2 separate regions of the Homo sapiens genome follow, and region 2 is linked to region 1. A link means that fine-mapping ties the variant in region 1 to the expression of a gene that starts in the linked region. Tissue or cell type: prefrontal cortex. Region 1 holds a variant in brackets; the other region holds the start of a gene. All regions are shown on one strand. Distances are from middle to middle.

The links. PIP is the estimated chance that this variant, and not a neighbour inherited with it, causes the effect.
Region 2: it holds the start of TTC5, and the variant in region 1 is fine-mapped to the expression of TTC5 in prefrontal cortex (CommonMind, PIP 0.95).

What each region holds. Positions count from the first base shown.
Region 1 is chr14:20,990,618-20,998,726 of GRCh38, reverse strand. METTL17 (methyltransferase like 17) reads right to left here. Exons shown (of 14, transcript NM_022734.3): 4 at 6,522-6,603; 5 at 6,105-6,186; 6 at 5,536-5,609; 7 at 4,664-4,758; 8 at 4,114-4,184; 9 at 3,826-3,933; 10 at 3,494-3,562; 11 at 2,776-2,826; 12 at 2,435-2,518; 13 at 2,016-2,200; 14 at 1,692-1,942. The coding sequence ends at 1,837. LOC101929718 (a long non-coding RNA gene) reads left to right here. Exons shown (of 4, transcript NR_110139.1): 2 at 913-1,047; 3 at 1,517-1,895; 4 at 2,397-2,890. Among named protein-coding and RNA genes, the nearest start is that of SLC39A2, 4.6 kb to the left of the region's middle. RefSeq lists an enhancer at 1,399-2,598. The variant C/G (reference allele first, on the strand shown) is at 3,836.
Region 2 is chr14:20,302,596-20,310,704 of GRCh38, reverse strand. It overlaps TTC5 (tetratricopeptide repeat domain 5), which reads left to right and starts at 4,754. Exons shown (of 10, transcript NM_138376.3): 1 at 4,754-4,818. The coding sequence starts at 4,768. RefSeq lists a silencer at 1,628-1,828 and an enhancer at 4,609-4,848.

The sequences.
Region 1 (8,109 bases):
TGAGAGGAATGAGTTGAGATGTCTGGTATTACAACATTTATACTGTTACAACTTCTAACTGTGCCTGTTTCCTGGTAAGAACTGTGGAAAAAAAGACATTTAAGGTTTAAGACAAAGGAAGCTGCTCTAGCCCTGAAACAGCAAGGCTTAGGGGAAAACAGAAATGAACTGAGTGAATGGGAGGATTCTACCTGGATATAGAGAGGTGGGGGTAGAAGATTCAGTTCTGATGGGAATCACTCTTGATGGAAATGTCTGGGGCATTTCCCATACATACTCTAGGGTAGCTGAGGGACCCTGGGAAAGACAGAAGGGAAGGCGTTAGTACAAGAGGCCAGGCAGCTGCTGATTCCCCTATTCAGGTGGCCCACATAACAACCCTGAGACCTGTTGAGCCAGTTCTCAGAGCTCTGGAGGCAGCTTTCCTTGCTACTCCAGATTATTTTCCTAGGGAAGTCCTGGCCTCTGGTAGAAGCAGTATTCTTACAGTGTTACTGGATGATTCTTACAGTGTTACTGGTCCTGCTGCTTGTTCTTGTGGTCCGGTAATGAGATGCAGACAGACAGACTGGGAAAGACGGGAGTTTATTTCTGCAACTGATTACAGGGAGGTCGGAGTAGCACACCAGACCAACTCAAAGTTACAAGCTTTTCTTTAGCTTTTATATACAATTCAAGCTCTATGACTACCTGCGGGAATGTTTCCTAATTAATCTAAACTAGGGGTCTGCAGGTAGAAGTTTTTTTTTTGTTTTTTAGAAACAAAGCAATAAACGATTTGATTTAGAAATAAAACCATTCCCATTATTGCAGCATTATCATCAGTCACTGATTGCTAATGCTGTTTACGCTTCTTTTTCCCTGGGATGTCTGAACCTGGCAACTTTTCTTCCTGTTCTTCTATTTTCTTAGCAAACCCACATCAAGGGTGTCTGTTCGCGTTTGAAATTCATCGGCACCAGAAAGAGCTAACATGTTGGCAGTATCTAGAAAACCATCAACATGAGCATGGGACAGTTCGCTTTGCAGCTGATCCCACCATAGTGAGTGAGTACTTGCAGACAGAAGTTTCTTAATCTTAAGTTGGTCCTGGGATGGGTTGTATGTGCAGGAATGCTTTTATCACTCAGCTAGATCTGAGGTAGAGAAAGTATAGGTGGGGCTTTAAAGGGCTTGCTTTTTTTGTATTCTGGCTTTCGTACTCAGGCACCAGTTTCCCCCGATTCCTTATCCATTTTTCTTGCTTCTGCTTTAATGTTTAACTTGTACATTCATCATTATAGCAAAGGGCTTATGGAAATCTGGTTTTTCTACTTCTGCTTTAATGATCAGCTTACACATTCATCATTACAGCGAAGAGCTTATGGAGCTCTGAACTGCCACAATAGGAGAGGGCGAGCTTGAGATTTGTGTGGGAAGCCTGGCACCAAAAATCTGAGGAAGCTCTTCATTACAGGATAGGCCAGGATAATTAACTATACCTTTTACATGTTTTTTTTTTTTTTTTTTTTTTAAGGGAGGACGTCTTGCTCTGTTACCTATGCTGAAGTGCAGTGTTACAATCAAAGTTCACTGTAGCCTTAACACCTGGGCTCAAGTGATCCTCTTGCCTCAGCTTCCTGAGTGGCTGGAAATGCAGACACATGCCACCGTGCCCAGCTTCTACACTTTTTAAGAATCACAAAATCCACTTCCATTCTTCAAAAATTTATTATTTATTATTAAAAATCTCAAACAAACACAGACATATGGGGATACCAGCATTCCCCTCCTGGATACCAGGCAGCTTCAGCCCTGGCAGGCACGATAGAAGAAAATACTTGTTACACATCCTCATCAACTCTCAGAGGGATCCTGAGCCGTAGATGGAGGAAACGCAGACGGAGTAAGCACAGGTAAAAGATCTCCCCAGGAGCTGACACGGGCACAACGATACAAATCCCTGTGGAAACAGATGCTGGCGTGGGCTGCAGCTTCCTGCCACATCCCACTGATTTTGGTCACACCCCCCATACCTGCCGTGCCGGCGGGCTGTGAGCACAGCATGCTGCATGTGCCCATCTGGACAGCACAAGTGACAATGCACATGGCGAGGCCGTTTAAGGACAGGCTGAGTGATACGGGGCCAGCGATGAGCCTCCTCTGGAGACCCCCGAGCAAGGATCACCATAGAGAACTTTTCTTCCTTTGGTTTCTTGTTCTAAGATAAGGAACATAGAGACTGTTTAGAAGAAAAAGATATGGGAAAAAAGTTTGTACAGTCCCTTCTTCCCCATTCCTGCAGTCCTTTTTTACAATGTATAAATCATATACATGTAGGCCCTAAAGTCTCCAGGCTATTCTACAAATTATCCAACTCCTCCTAACTCTGATTCTTTTTCTTCCTGTTTTTCCAGGATGTTTGCTTCCTGCTGCAATATCCCCAGGTACCTACCCAGCTGAAGGGGATGGGATGGTACGCCTGTGAGAAGCTACAGGCCAGGTTGGTCAACTGGGGACAAGGGAGTTCATGGGGACACTGTGAACACATAAAAAAATGAGGTAAGACAAAAGAGCCATCAATCACAAAACTTAAAAACTGAGAATAATAGAGTCAAAAGGGGCCAGGGAGAAGGGAGGACAGGAGCAGTGGGTAGGAAGAGCCAGGGGAATCATTAGGTAGGAACTGGATAGGAACACAAAGTAGTGGAGAGTGGCTTAGCTTTACCATCTTACATTTCCCGGCCACGCCTAAGTTCAGATCCGTGTGGTGGGACAGGCAGAAGTAATACTCACCGGGGCAAAGACAAAACCAGGTCGAGGGTCCAAAGGTGACTTCTCTTTTCCCTGAAATCAAAGGAAATAAAAGAAATAAAGCTGGGCCAAGGGTCTATTTTCATAATTCAATCTCTGCACTCAGTAAACTGAGGACTCCTTTAACACTCAATTCTAATAACGATTGACTATGTCCTTTGAATTAAGCTGGCTGCATCTTTAATACTCCAAACAAAGAACTTTCTCTTTGCTGCAGGAGAAAGGCAAGAACTTGGCACATAGTACGGTGCTCTCCCTTGTCAGCAACCTCCACTCTCAAAAAAATCCCACTCCAGGACAATTAAATTTATGATTATACACTGGCTCATACTCTCCCCCAGTGACAAGGTTCTTAGCTCAGCAATGCCCTAGATTAGGAGTCCGCAAAGTTTCTTTTAAAGGGCCAGAGAGTAGGCAAAATCTATCTCTGTCCCAACTACTCAACTCTGCTGTTTGTAGTGTGAAAGCAGTCACAGACAACAGAGGCACAAATAAGCATGGCTTATATAAAAACAGGTGGCAGGTCGGATTTGATCCACAGGCTCTCATTTGCCAACCACTGCTCTGTATCATAATGACTTCATACGCCCAGTTTCCTGAGAGCCACCCTTGTCAATACATGACAGTCTCTTTCGTTTTCAAGAGAGTAACAGTAATTGGTGCCATATGGGTGGGGGAGTGAGGGAAGAAGAAGCCTTACCTTAAGGACCAGATCCCTGGCATCCATGAGAAGGCTGTGCCCAGCTTTTGTTCCATTCTCCACCAGTACCTGTTCACAAAAGGGGAAAATATGCAGAAGACTTGAATTACACGAAAGTATAAATGTCAGTAGCTGTGTAAGAGCAATCATAGAGGGAGAAGGAGTCCTAAAAAGAAATAGGCATTACATAATCAGGATGGAGACCCTCAAAGAGGGATAAAGAAACCCATGAAGGAGAAAAATGGTGAAGAATAAAGACAATGAGAGGAGCAAAGGCATGAAATCCATGAAGCTGCTTCAAGACTTAAGGAGAACAAGGAATTTTAACTCACCAGGAAATGA[C/G]CTGTCTTACGCCATAAGGTTTGAACTACCTCAGTGCGGTCAGCCTTGCTGGGCAGTTCACTTAAGGAAAAAGCTGACACTACTACATCAAACTGCACCTGAGGACCAAGACAAGGAACATGACAGACTCAACATCTCTACATCCCAAGAATACAACAAAGTCCTAGCCGCTAAATTTCTTTTATCTTCTAACACTCAGTGCTGGGCTGCAAAGCTCAAGCCATAGTTTTCCATCTGCCACATTCCACATTTAGAATATTCTAAACACTGCCACTTGCCTTGGGTGATACAGGTAGAAACTGTCTGAAAAAGACACCTGGAATATAAGGCTCCCCAGATTCTGAACCACCTGTGGAGAAAAGAAGAGGCAACTGTGAGTGTGTAGGAAGTTAGGTATAAACTGAAGAGATATCCAGATAAGAAACATGGCCCCAAGAATAGGTAAAGTGTATATCAAAAAGGGCAGGGATGAGCCAGGTATGGCGGTGCGTGCCTGTAATCCCAGCTACCCTAGAGGCTGAAGTGGGAGGATGGCTTGAGGCCAGGAGTTTGAGACCAGCCTGGGTAACATATGGAGACCCTACCTCTAATTAAAAAAAAAAAAAAAAGGGCAGGGAGAATATTAGGCCTCCTGTCCTTTGATTCTTACCCAACCCATCCTCAGTCCAGCAGAAACCTCTAATACCACCCTTTGCTTGACTATAACTTTAAAAGTAAACCAGATTCATCTTAATTTTTACCCTCTTCTCTACTTCCCAGTAAAACACTTTTACTAGTACCCCTTTGCTTTCTTAACTCCCTCAACTTTGGAAGTGCTCTTGCACTCACCTTTCAGTAGTTTTTCTGCCAAAACCAACATGGCAGCTGATCTGTCCACACACATATATTCACGTAGGCTCTGGCCCCAAATACTGTGAGCAGCCCTAAGATGGCAAAATTATTATAAATCACCAATTCCCATGACCAAGAGTCATCTCTACAAGAGGCCCATTTACACCCAACCCCACCCCTGGGAAAAGAGAGTGTTATGTTAAAGTAGTTGTATAGTTAGTAATAAAATAACTAATAGTGTTATTTTCTTGTTTTATTTACAACTCCTAAAAAAAAAAAGGTAGACTCAGCTGGGCACAGTGGCTCATGCTTGTAATCCCAGCACTTTGGGAGGCCAAGGTGGGCGGATCACAAGGTCAGGAGTTAGAGACCAGCCTGGCCAATATGGTGAAACCCCGTCTCTACTAAAAATACAAAAATTAGCTGGGTGTGGTGGCGTGCACCTGTAGTCCCAGCTACTCGGGAGGGTGAGGCAGGAGAATCACTTGAACCCAGGAGTGGAGGCTGCAGTGAGCCGAGATTGTGCCACTGCACTCCAGCCTGGGCGACAGAGTGAGACACCGTTTCAAAAAAGAAAAAAAAAAGGTAGACTCAAAATACTATTTGTAGGCAAAAACAACTTTGATTGATAATTCCTTTTCTTTTTAATTTTTCTACACATGCGCCTTTTTTTACTTGACATTTCTTTTAAGTTCTGGCCCCAATCCATATACCTTCTTCTGCCTTGCCTAATCTGATGGAAGAAACATTATAGATTCCCAACTTGCCTATTCTCCCTCTGGTTTTCCAGTCTGTTAATTTTGGAGTGGTGTAAGTATGGCTTTCTAGAGCTAAAATTGACCAAGATAGGGCTGAAGAAAGTTACTCACCAGGTGACAGAACCAGTACCTGAGCCAAAGTCCATCAAAGTTTGTGGCTGAAATGCTGGATTTCGAGCCCGGATCTGAAGAAATATACAACATCCCACAGTAGGGTAATTAGATACTTATTTAGGACCTTGATAAATGTGAATTAGGAGGCTATCACAGAGGATGTGAGATGTGAATGCCTTTTGAGATTCAATACAAATACCTTATGGGATAAGAATCTCCTAAAATAGTGATTCTAAACCTTTCTTGGGTCACAGAAAGCTTTCACAGGATAAAGAGAACGTCTTTATTTTGTGTTTTTTTTAAGAGATGAGGTCTCACTCTGTCACCAGGCTGGAGTACAGTGGAGATCACAGCTCACTGCAGCCTCAAACTGGCTCAAGCAATCCTCCTGCCTCAGCCTCCCAAACAGTTGGGACTGCAGGCAGGAGCCCACTATGTCCAGCGGAGATCCTCTTTAAAAAAAAAATGCATATGCAATGTCCCAAGAATCCCCATCCTAGAAAACTACTTTATGAATAGGGAACTGATGGTCAAAAAGTTCAGGTTGGAAGTTAAGGGACTTTCACCTCATGGAATGCTCTGGAGACTGCTGCAAAGCCACCATCCAGTCTTGCTGCCATATACACCAGGCTCAGTCCCTCAGTGTAGCTGCCATTAAAATCACAGAGTTGTACATACTAGTAAATAACCTTAATCCCATAATTACCTTCTAGATTTAGAAAATGACATCTTGGAAAGGGCTCTTCCAGCTCAGGCCTTTCACTCCCCAATACAAAAGGGTCCTGGGGAGACTTACAAACACTAAATTTTCAAACTTCAGTGTTCAAAACTTTGTACTTTAGCTTTTTCAAATACTAAATTGATCCTTTTAAGGTCAGGTGATATAAAAGAAAATACTAAATTGATTGTGTAATTGTACTCCCCCAACTCTCTTTCTAAAGTCTACCTTTGCTTTCTTGTGCACCTCTTCTGGGCCCCCTTACCTCAGTTCTTGCCAATGGTAGGTAGTTTTACGTAGTGCGTGTAGCACTGCTCCACGAAGTTTCTCCTCTGTCTGAGATAAGTCTGTGGTGAGAACAAGGACTGGAAGTCAGGACCTAGGGAGAACAGGGCTCAGATCCAATATCTGAATATACTGCCCACCCAGTCCTCCCCGACTCCACCTAAGAAAAGCCTTAAAGCTCAAGGGAGACGACAAACCTAGAGAAAAGTTTCAGGCAAGAATTAACGGTAACAACTACCACTAACAGATTGTATCAGATAGCATTTTATTTATAAGAATGGTTTATTCAGCTTAACCAATCCTGTCCCACAGGTTTGTTTTATATTAAAGGAAAGTGTGATACAAATTTAAAGGGTAAGCTGGGTGCGGTGGCTCACGCCTGTAAGCTCAGCACTTTGGGAGGCTGAGGCAGGCGGATCACGAGGTCAGGAGTTTGAGAACAGCCTGACCAACATGGTGAAAACCTTTCTCTACGAAAAATACAAAAATTAGCCAGGCGTGGTGGCGTGCACCTGTATTCCCAGCTACTTGGGAAGCTGAGGCAGGAGAATCACTTGAAACCGGGAGGCAGAGGTTGTGGTGAGCTGAGATCGCACCACTGCACTATAGCCTGGGCAACAGAGCAAGACTCTGTCTCAAAAAAAAAAAATTTTTTTTAAAGGGTAGGCCAAGGACATTATTTTTTGGATTTCTTCACTTCTCCAAAATTTAAGGTTTTGATGATCTCCACTATTCCTATGGAGAGGAAAGAAATCTGAAAATCTACGTCTCATGACTGTTCAGTTCAGTACTATTTAGCAAGTATCTACTGAACTACTGTGAGCCAGGTACTGTGAGGTGTGCAGGGAATGCAAGATGAATAAATGGTAGTGTCAAGGAGCTCACAATCATGAAACTAACTTGATGAATTATATTTACCCTCTTATCCCAGAAGAGGGTTTCAGTACTGGGCAGGGACCATCCAGGGACTTTATTTTACCTGAATAAAAACTTAGAAGGTCCTAATCCAGTGGACTTGCAGAAAAAAATAAATATCTAGATTTTAACAGTATATTGGTAGCCAGGCGCGGTGGTTCATGCCTGTAATCCTAGCACTTTGGGAGGCCAAGGTGGGCGGATCACCTGAGGTCAGAAGTTCGAGACTAGCCTGGCCACCATGATGAAACCCCGTCTCTACTAAAAATACAAGTAGCCGGGTGTGGTGGTGCACGCCTGTAATCCCAGCTACTGAAGAGGCTGAGGCAGGAAAATCACTTAAACCCGGGAGGCGGAGGTTGCAGTGAGCCGAGATCGAGCATTACACTTCAGCCTGGGTGACAGAGCAAGACTCTGTCTCAAAGCAAAAACAAAACAACAAAACAAACAAACAAACAAAAAACAGTATACTGGGACATTCTGACCTTTACCTAAGCAATCTCTAAAATAATCTACCTTCTTTTAGTAAGGCATCATTGTAACAACTGCTGCTCTGGTTAGAAAGTCAAATAAGAGACTTCAGTATCTGAGAGATTGTAGAATTATTTCTTACTCTTCATTTCTAACCGATATTTCAATCTCGCCCACTTTTT
Region 2 (8,109 bases), 690 kb after region 1:
TCGCCCCTCACCTCCCGGACGGGGCGGCTGGCCGGGCGGGGGGCTGACCCCCCCACCTCCCTCCCGGACGGGGCGGCTGGCCGGGCGGGGGGCTGGCCCCCCCACCTCCCTCCCGGACGGGGCGGCTGGCTGGGCAGAGGGGCTCCTCACTTCCCAGTAGGGGCGGCTGGGCAGAGGCGCCCCTCACCTCCTGGACGGGGCAGCTGGCCGGGCGGGGGGCTGACCCCCCCACCTCCCTCCCGGACGGGGCGGCTGGCTGGGCAGAGGGGCTCCTCACTTCCCAGTAGGGGCGGCCGGGCAGAGGCGCCCCTCACCTCCCGGACGGGGCGGCTGGCCGGGTGGGGGGCTGACCCCCCCACCTCCCTCCCGGACGGGGCGGCTGGCCGGGCGGGGGGCTGACTCCCCCACCTCCCTCCTGGACGGGGTGGCTGGCCAGGCAGAGGGGCTCCTCACTTCCCAGTAGGGGCGGCTGGGCAGAGGCGCCCCTCACCTCCCGGACGGGGCGTCTGGCCGGGTGGGGGGCTGACTCCCCCACCTCCCTCCCGGACGGGGCGGCTGCCGGGCGGAGACGCTCCTCACTTCCCAGACGGGGTGGCTGCCGGGCGGAGGGGCTCCTCACTTCTCAGATGGGGCGGATGCTGGGCGGAGGGTCTCCTCACTTCTCAGACGGGGCGGCTGGGCAGAGACGCTCCTCACCTCCCAGACGGGGCGGCGGGGCAGAGGCGCTCCCCACATCTCAGACGATGGGCGGCCGGGCAGAGACGCTCCTCACTTCCCAGACGGGATGGCTGCCAGGAAGAGGCGCTCCTCACTTCCTAGATGGGATGGCGGCCGGTCAGAGACGCTCCTCACTTTCCAGACTGGGCAGCCAGGCAGAGGGGCTCCTCACGTCCCAGACGATGGGCGGCCAGGCAGAGACGCTCCTCACTTCCCAGACGGGGTGGCGGCCGGGCAGAGGCTGCAATCTCGGCACTTTGGGAGGCCAAGGCAGGCGGCTGGGAGATGGAGGTTGTAGCGAGCTGAGATCATGCCACTGCACTCCAGCCTGGGCACCATTGAGCACTGAGTGAACCAGACTCCGTCTGCAATCCCGGCACCTCGGGAGGCCAAGGCTGGCGGATCACTCGCGGTTAGGAGCTGGAGACCAGCCCGGCCAACACAGTGAAACCCCGTCTCCACCAAAAAAGTACGAAAACCAGTCAGGCGTGGTGGCGCGCGCCTGCAATCGCAGGCCCTCGGCAGGCTGAGGCAGGAGAATCAGGCAGGGAGGTTGCAGTGAACCGAGATGGCAGCAGTACAGTCCAGTTTCGGCTCGGCATCAGAGGGAGACAGTGGAAAGAGAGGGAGAGGGAGACCGAGAGGGAGAGGGGAGAGGGGAGAGGGGAGAGGGGAGAGGGGAGAGGGAGAGGGAGAGGCAGAGGCAGAGGCAGGGGCAGGGGCAGGGTAGCAAATCTTTTTTCTAGATAGGACTCCCCAGCTTCTCTGTGCTTTTAAGTCTCTGAAGTTGTTTTCACATTATCAACATAACAAACTCATTGGCAGTGGGGAGTGGTTTAGAGTCTGGTTTCTTTGTTTCTATTATTTAAAGCATAAGCATTTTATTAGTCTCAATTCCATTGTGAACTGCTGAATTTTCATCCCTAGTGTGAGAAGGTCACAATAGTATTTGTTTCAATAGATAACTCTTTCTCCCTGTGCTGTTTCTCACTGAGCTGTGGTGTTTATGCCTTAAGTACCTGTGTTATATGCTACATGTTGCTTTGAATTCTGGTATTTATGCATATCTGTATATGTAAGTATGTTAATGTACACTGATATTTTGCTGTATTTGCCAGTATGTTTATGTGAAAATTTTGGTCTTGGAAAATGGTGGGTGATGTGTAGCTTGTTATTTGGGTGTGTGTATTTATTTGTATATATTTATGTATTTACCTTCGTATTGTTTGGAGGTGTGCTTATGTCAGTGAACGAGAGTACAATTTGATGCATGTATGTTCAGTCCCTATTTGTATTTAAAAATAACTCACGTTGATGAAGTTATTTTTTAAAGTTAATTTTTTTGGCATTTACAGTCGGTGCTCTGTATCCATAGGTTCTGCTTCTGCAGATTCAGCCAACCATATATCAAAAATATTTGAGAAAAAATAATATAAAAAAATACAAATTAAAAACCAATACTATATAACAACTATTTGGATAGCATTTACATTGTAGGTATTATAAATAATTTAGAGGTGATTTAAAGTATTTGGGAGAATCTGTAGGTTATATGCAAATACCATGCCATTTTATAAAAGTGACATGAACATCCAAGGATTTTGGTATCCATGAGGGTTCCTGGAACCAATCCCCCAAAGATACCAAAGGAAGACTGTATTTTAAAATAAAGCTACTTCTTTACCTTTTTGTCAACTATTGCCTTGGGTTTACTTATTTAGGAATGCACTTCTGCAGAAAGTTTACCAATGTGTTATTGATCTCGAGATTGTATTAAAATAAAAGATTTATTTATTGTTTTCCTTTATTTAGTGAGTATTTCTGACTATTATTATGGGAATTAAATTGTTTATGCATTTATTTATTTAAAATGTAGAGCCATGATAGAAATTTGAAGGACATTCTCAGTAACTTTATGTCCTGTTAGAGGAAAGATTTGAAAGCATACTGGCTGGAGAGGCAGAAGATCTGGGTTCTGGTTTCTACTTAGTTTGAACTTTCTTGGACTTAGTCTCTGTATCTGTAAAATGAAGGACTGAATTAAGTTATCCTTACAGCCTTTTCTAACTCTTAAATTTTAGGATTGATTCTTAATGGTTTAAGATGTGTTAACAATGGAATTACCCTAAATGTCAAATCCCATTGTTTTTTAGGTAATAAAAATTATACTGAAATCATTTGAAGATATATTTAGTCATTGTAGAAAGGCAATTAAATACCCCTGCTTTACATAATTGAAAAGCAAGTAGTGTTTCCTTCACTAGGAATATAGAGTATAAAATCTCTTAAAAATTATTCTTAATGTGCACCAAAATTATTTATTACTGTTTTTTTGAGATGGAGTCTTGCTGTGTTGCCCAGGCTGGAGTGCAGTGGCAGCATCTTGGCTCACTGCAACCTCTGCCTCCTGGGTTCAAGTGGTTCTCCTGTCTTGGCCTCCCAAGTAGCTGGGATTACAGGTGCATGCCACCACACCTGGCTAATTTTTGTATCTTTAGTAGAGATGGGGTTTTACCACATTGGCCAGGCTTGTCTTGAACTGACCTCAAGTGATCTGCCCGCCTTGGCCTCCCAAAGTGCTGGGATTACAGGTGTGAGCCACCGTGCCCAGCCTCGTGTGCACCAAAGTTAAAATGTCTGAGAAAGAGGATGAAAAATTTTAAAGTTTTAGGGCCGGGTGTGGTGGCTCACGCCTGTAATCCTAGCACTTTGGGAAGCTGAGGCGGGTGAATCATGAGGTCAGGAGATCGAGACCATCCTGGCTAACACGGTGAAATCCCGTCTCTACTAAAAATACAAAAAATTAGCCGGGCGTGGTGGTATGCACCTGTAGCCCCAGCTACTCGGGAGGCTGAGGCGGGAGAATCGCTTGAACCTGGGAGGCCGAGGTTGCAGTGAGCCGAGATGGCGCCATTGCACTCCAGCCTGGGCTACACAGTGAGACTCCATCTCAAAAAAAAATTTTTAAAACATCCCTCCCTATTTTACAGCTAACGACATAGATTTTATAGGTTACAATACAAACTATTTCCTTTATGTTGGAAAATGATTTGAGGAAATGATTTTATGTATATTCATGATTTCTGCCTTGAACGTTTTACTTCTTTGTTAGTTTCACAGAATCAGCTTGAAGCTGTAATTAAAACTAAAAAAGTAAAGCAAAACTGCCAGGAATATTACATGACACTTTAAAAGATTTATTCAGAAGTTTAATATATTCACAAGGTACAAACTTTAAAGTTACAAAAAAGGCATAGAGTGAAAAGTCTACCCCAGTTCCCTGGTCACTCATTTTTGCTCCAGCCACTCACTTCTGCTCTTTGTAAGCGATAGTCTTGCCAGTGTCTTGTGTCTCTTTCCAGAGACTATGTAGAAGCAAATAATTTTTTATTTAAAAATGTTTATATTTGAATAGGTGATACATATAGATGGCAAGAAAATTCAAAAGGGCAGGCAGTGAAAATTTTCTTCGCTCACCCACAGTTCCCCAGTTTCTGTGTTTCCCTCTGCAGAGACAGTCATCCTTTCTTATATATCCTTCTGGATGTTGTCTATAAATATGGAGGCATTGTTAGTGTAGAGCATGGTGGTTTTTATGAGCCATCCCAAGTGTAGTATTTATTAAGATAGTGCATTAAAATGATAAAATTAATCATACATAGAAAATTACTGCAAAGTTTGGAAAAGATTGAGTAAAGTAGCTATTGTACTACATGGCTTTCGAAATTTCAAACAACACAGGTGTGCACTTCTTAAACTCTCTTCTTTATGGAGTATTATAATCTTAGTATAAATAAGTAGGAAGACATGAAACAAGAATATAGAAATTAAGCTGAGGACATTTTGTTTCCAGGATCTGGGAAAGAAAGAAGTTTATGAACTCACAAGTGATTGTAGAGCATCTCTGTGGAAATAAATGGTTAAGTCGGTTTGAAGCAAAGCCCTTCTGGGGCAGAAAAGCCTCCAGAACGCCAGATGTCGCTGTGGTTCCGCGGTGAGAGAGGGCGTGCGTCTCTGTGGTTATAAAGTTGGGGGTGGAGTGGCCGGGAGATGATGGCTGATGAAGAGGAAGAAGTCAAGCCGATCTTGCAGAAATTGCAGGTGGGGCCGTAGATTAAATTCTGTATGTGTTTTTGTTACTCCGAATGAAGCAGGGAGTCCAGTTTATGTACTGCCCGTGAATTCCTCGGCACACACGCGAAGCTGCGTGCGTCTGTGTGGTTACTATAACAACCCTCGAGGGTGCAGCCGCAGCCAGCCAGGGAGCCTCGTTGGAACCTCCTGCTGCCGACCTGACTGCGGTTAATTTCAGTCCTGTATGGAAGAAGATTTGTTGCTCCTAACTGTTCATGTACATTTTTAGAGAGGACGTTGTTTTCTCGATTCATCCATAGCGAATAGCATATACATGTGTGTGGCAGATCTGCATGAACTACTGTCACATGTTGTTTTGATCCCTACAAAAGCCATTTAACACCTTTCTGCTTTGAATTTGGCAACAATCACGCTAATGACCTGCACTGCAAGTGTCCTGGTTACTCCCCTTAGGATTTCAGTTTTGATTTCTTTCAACCTGTGTAATTCCACTTTGGGGTCTGATGCAGAGGGGTCCAGACTCCACATAGTCCACAGGTAAGACTAGTCTTTTGGACTTGGTAGGGAGGCGTTAACTAGTTGCTTGGCTCTTTGCCTTTAAGAACCCATGATTTTCCTTACACCTCAGGAACTCAGTTCTTCGTTCTAAGGCAGCCTGTAACTTAAATATTAGAACTATGACAGGCTTGTAACTTGCCTAAAGGTGTTTAACGCACAAATTTAAATACTGGTGAAATTTCTTTGTTCTTGGGTACATTAAAATAGTAACACTTTTTAGAGTGTTCCAGCTGATTTGGATTAACTTCATTTTATTCCCTAACTGTGACTGGCTGAAATCAGAGATTCTCAATTCTGGTTCTATATTAGAAACATTATTTGTGTATATATGTTTGTATATGCACAGAAAAAAATCTGAAAAGGTATACAAATCAGTGGTTATCACTGAGGTTCTTTGGGGTAATTTTGTACTTTCTTTTTTTTACATGTATCTATTTGAATTTTAACAACTTACATGTATTGATTTTGCCATGAAAAAATAAGTTTCTAAAAACATTCAGTCCAGAGGAAAACAAAACCAAACAATAAAACCAAACAACTTCTTGAATGTTTGGTTTAACAACTAAAACCAATCAATAAGCCCTTCTCTAAAACTCTTAATTTGCAGCCATGTTGATTGCAGGACAAAAGGAAATTGGTTGTAATTTTTTATGAGAATTGTCTTTTCCTAGGTTCATTTGTGGTAAATGTCCTAAGCAGCTTGGGAGAGGATACTTCCGTTATCTTGGGGTGGGGTCGGTGCAGGAATGGAATAAAGGAGTGAAGTAGAGAAGAGGAAAAGGATTAGATAATGGTGTTGCTGTTCATGGAGATGGTGGTAAACTTTGATTTCATTGTTAAAGACATTTTAGTGTAAAAAGAGTGTATAAATGGATATTTCTCAAAGTGTGTTTTACAGACAGTTTCATTACAGTCATCTGGGGTGCCTGTTAAAAATGTAGAATTTTGAGTTCTGCTAAACTGTTAAAATCAGAGTCTCTGCAGGCTGGGTCTTGGATATAATACAATAAAATTTGCAGAGGGTGCTAGTCTGTTCCCTTCATTCTGGATAGGATTTTAAATTAAGTATAGCACATATGTATTTGTTAGAACAGGGATAGTTAGTTAGTTAATTCAATCAAGTGTAGTGAATTAGAGCCTATCATGTCCCAAGTCCCGTTCTGGTGCTCAGGTGTAGCTCGAAACAAAACAGATTAAAGGCCTTTCCATCCTGGAGCTTACATTTCAGTGGTGGAGGCAGACAATAGACAATTAATGATAGGCCACATGATTTTAAATAAGTATGAAGAAAAATAAGAGTATGATATAACAGTAGAGGAGAGAAGGAATGGATTCATTTGGGTTGAGTAATTAGGGAAAACCTTTCTGGAATTGATATTTGACCTAAGATCTAAATGATGATGAGGAATAAGTTATGCAGAGATCTGGAGAAAGTGTCCAGGCATAAGGTCTTCCAGGTGGGCTGAGCTTGATGGGTTTGAGAAACTGCATGAAGGCAACTCTGGCTTGAGTATTGTAGGAGAGAGAATGGTGAGAGGTGAAGTTTGTGTCAGGATGGGTGGTGGTAGGTCAGCTCATACAGTCTTCTAGGTCATGATAAGGACTTGGATTTTATTCTGTCTGCAATGGGAAACTATTTGAAGGTTTGTGATATGATGTACGTTTTTTATAAGATCACTCCCACTACAGTGAGGAGAATGGGAGAGAACAGAAACAAGATGACTGGTTAAGAAGCTCTTGCAGTCCAGGCAAGTAATGAAGCTGATGTAATCCAGGAATGGTCATAGTGGGATGGAGACAGGTGGATGAATTCAGGATGTGTTGTGAAGATTGTTGATTACACTCGAAGGGAAGTGATTATATCTTTCTGCTGCTATCTATTTAGTTTCAGGAAAGAATAGGATATCTGTTATCTGAAATGCTTAGGACTCGAAGTTTTTTGGATTTTGGATTTTTTTGAATTTTGGAATATCTGCATATACATAATGAGATAACTTGGGGATGGGACCCAAATCTAAATATGAAACTTGGTGGCTTATGCCTGTAGTCCCAGCACTTTGGGAGGCTGAGGTGGGAGCATTGCTTGAAATCAGGAGTTTGAGACCAGCCTGGGCAACCTACGAGACTCTTTTTTTTTTTTTTTTGAGACGGAGTCTTGCTCTGTTGCCAGGCTGGAGGGCAGTGGCATGATCTTGGCTCACTGCAACCTCTGCCTCCCAGGTTCAAGCGATTCTCCTGCCTCAGCCTCCCGAGTAGGTGGGACTACAGGTGTGCGCCACCATGCCTGGCTAATTTTTGTATTTTTAGTAGAGACCGGGTTTCACCATGATGGCCAGGATGGTTTCGATCTCTTCATGATCCGTCTGCCTTGGACTACCAAAGTGCTAGGATTACAGGCATGAGCCACCACGCCTGGTGACCCTGTCTTTTAAAAAAGAAAAAAAAAAAATTGTTTCATTTACACTTTATACACATAGGCTGAAAGTAATTTGATACAATATTTTTAATAATTTTGTGCCTGAAACAACGTTTTGACCGCATTTTGACTGTGTGTCAGGTGTGGAATTTTCTACTTGTGGTGTCAGCGTTTCAAAAGTTTCAGATTTTGGAGGATTTCAGATTTTTGCATTAGGGATGCTTGACCTGTAGTAGAAAAGCTTTGCCTGGTGTGACAGGAAGACTCAGAGGCATTTAAGAGGAAAGAGAATATTTATTTGTAAAAAATCCAAGGCAGCCAGA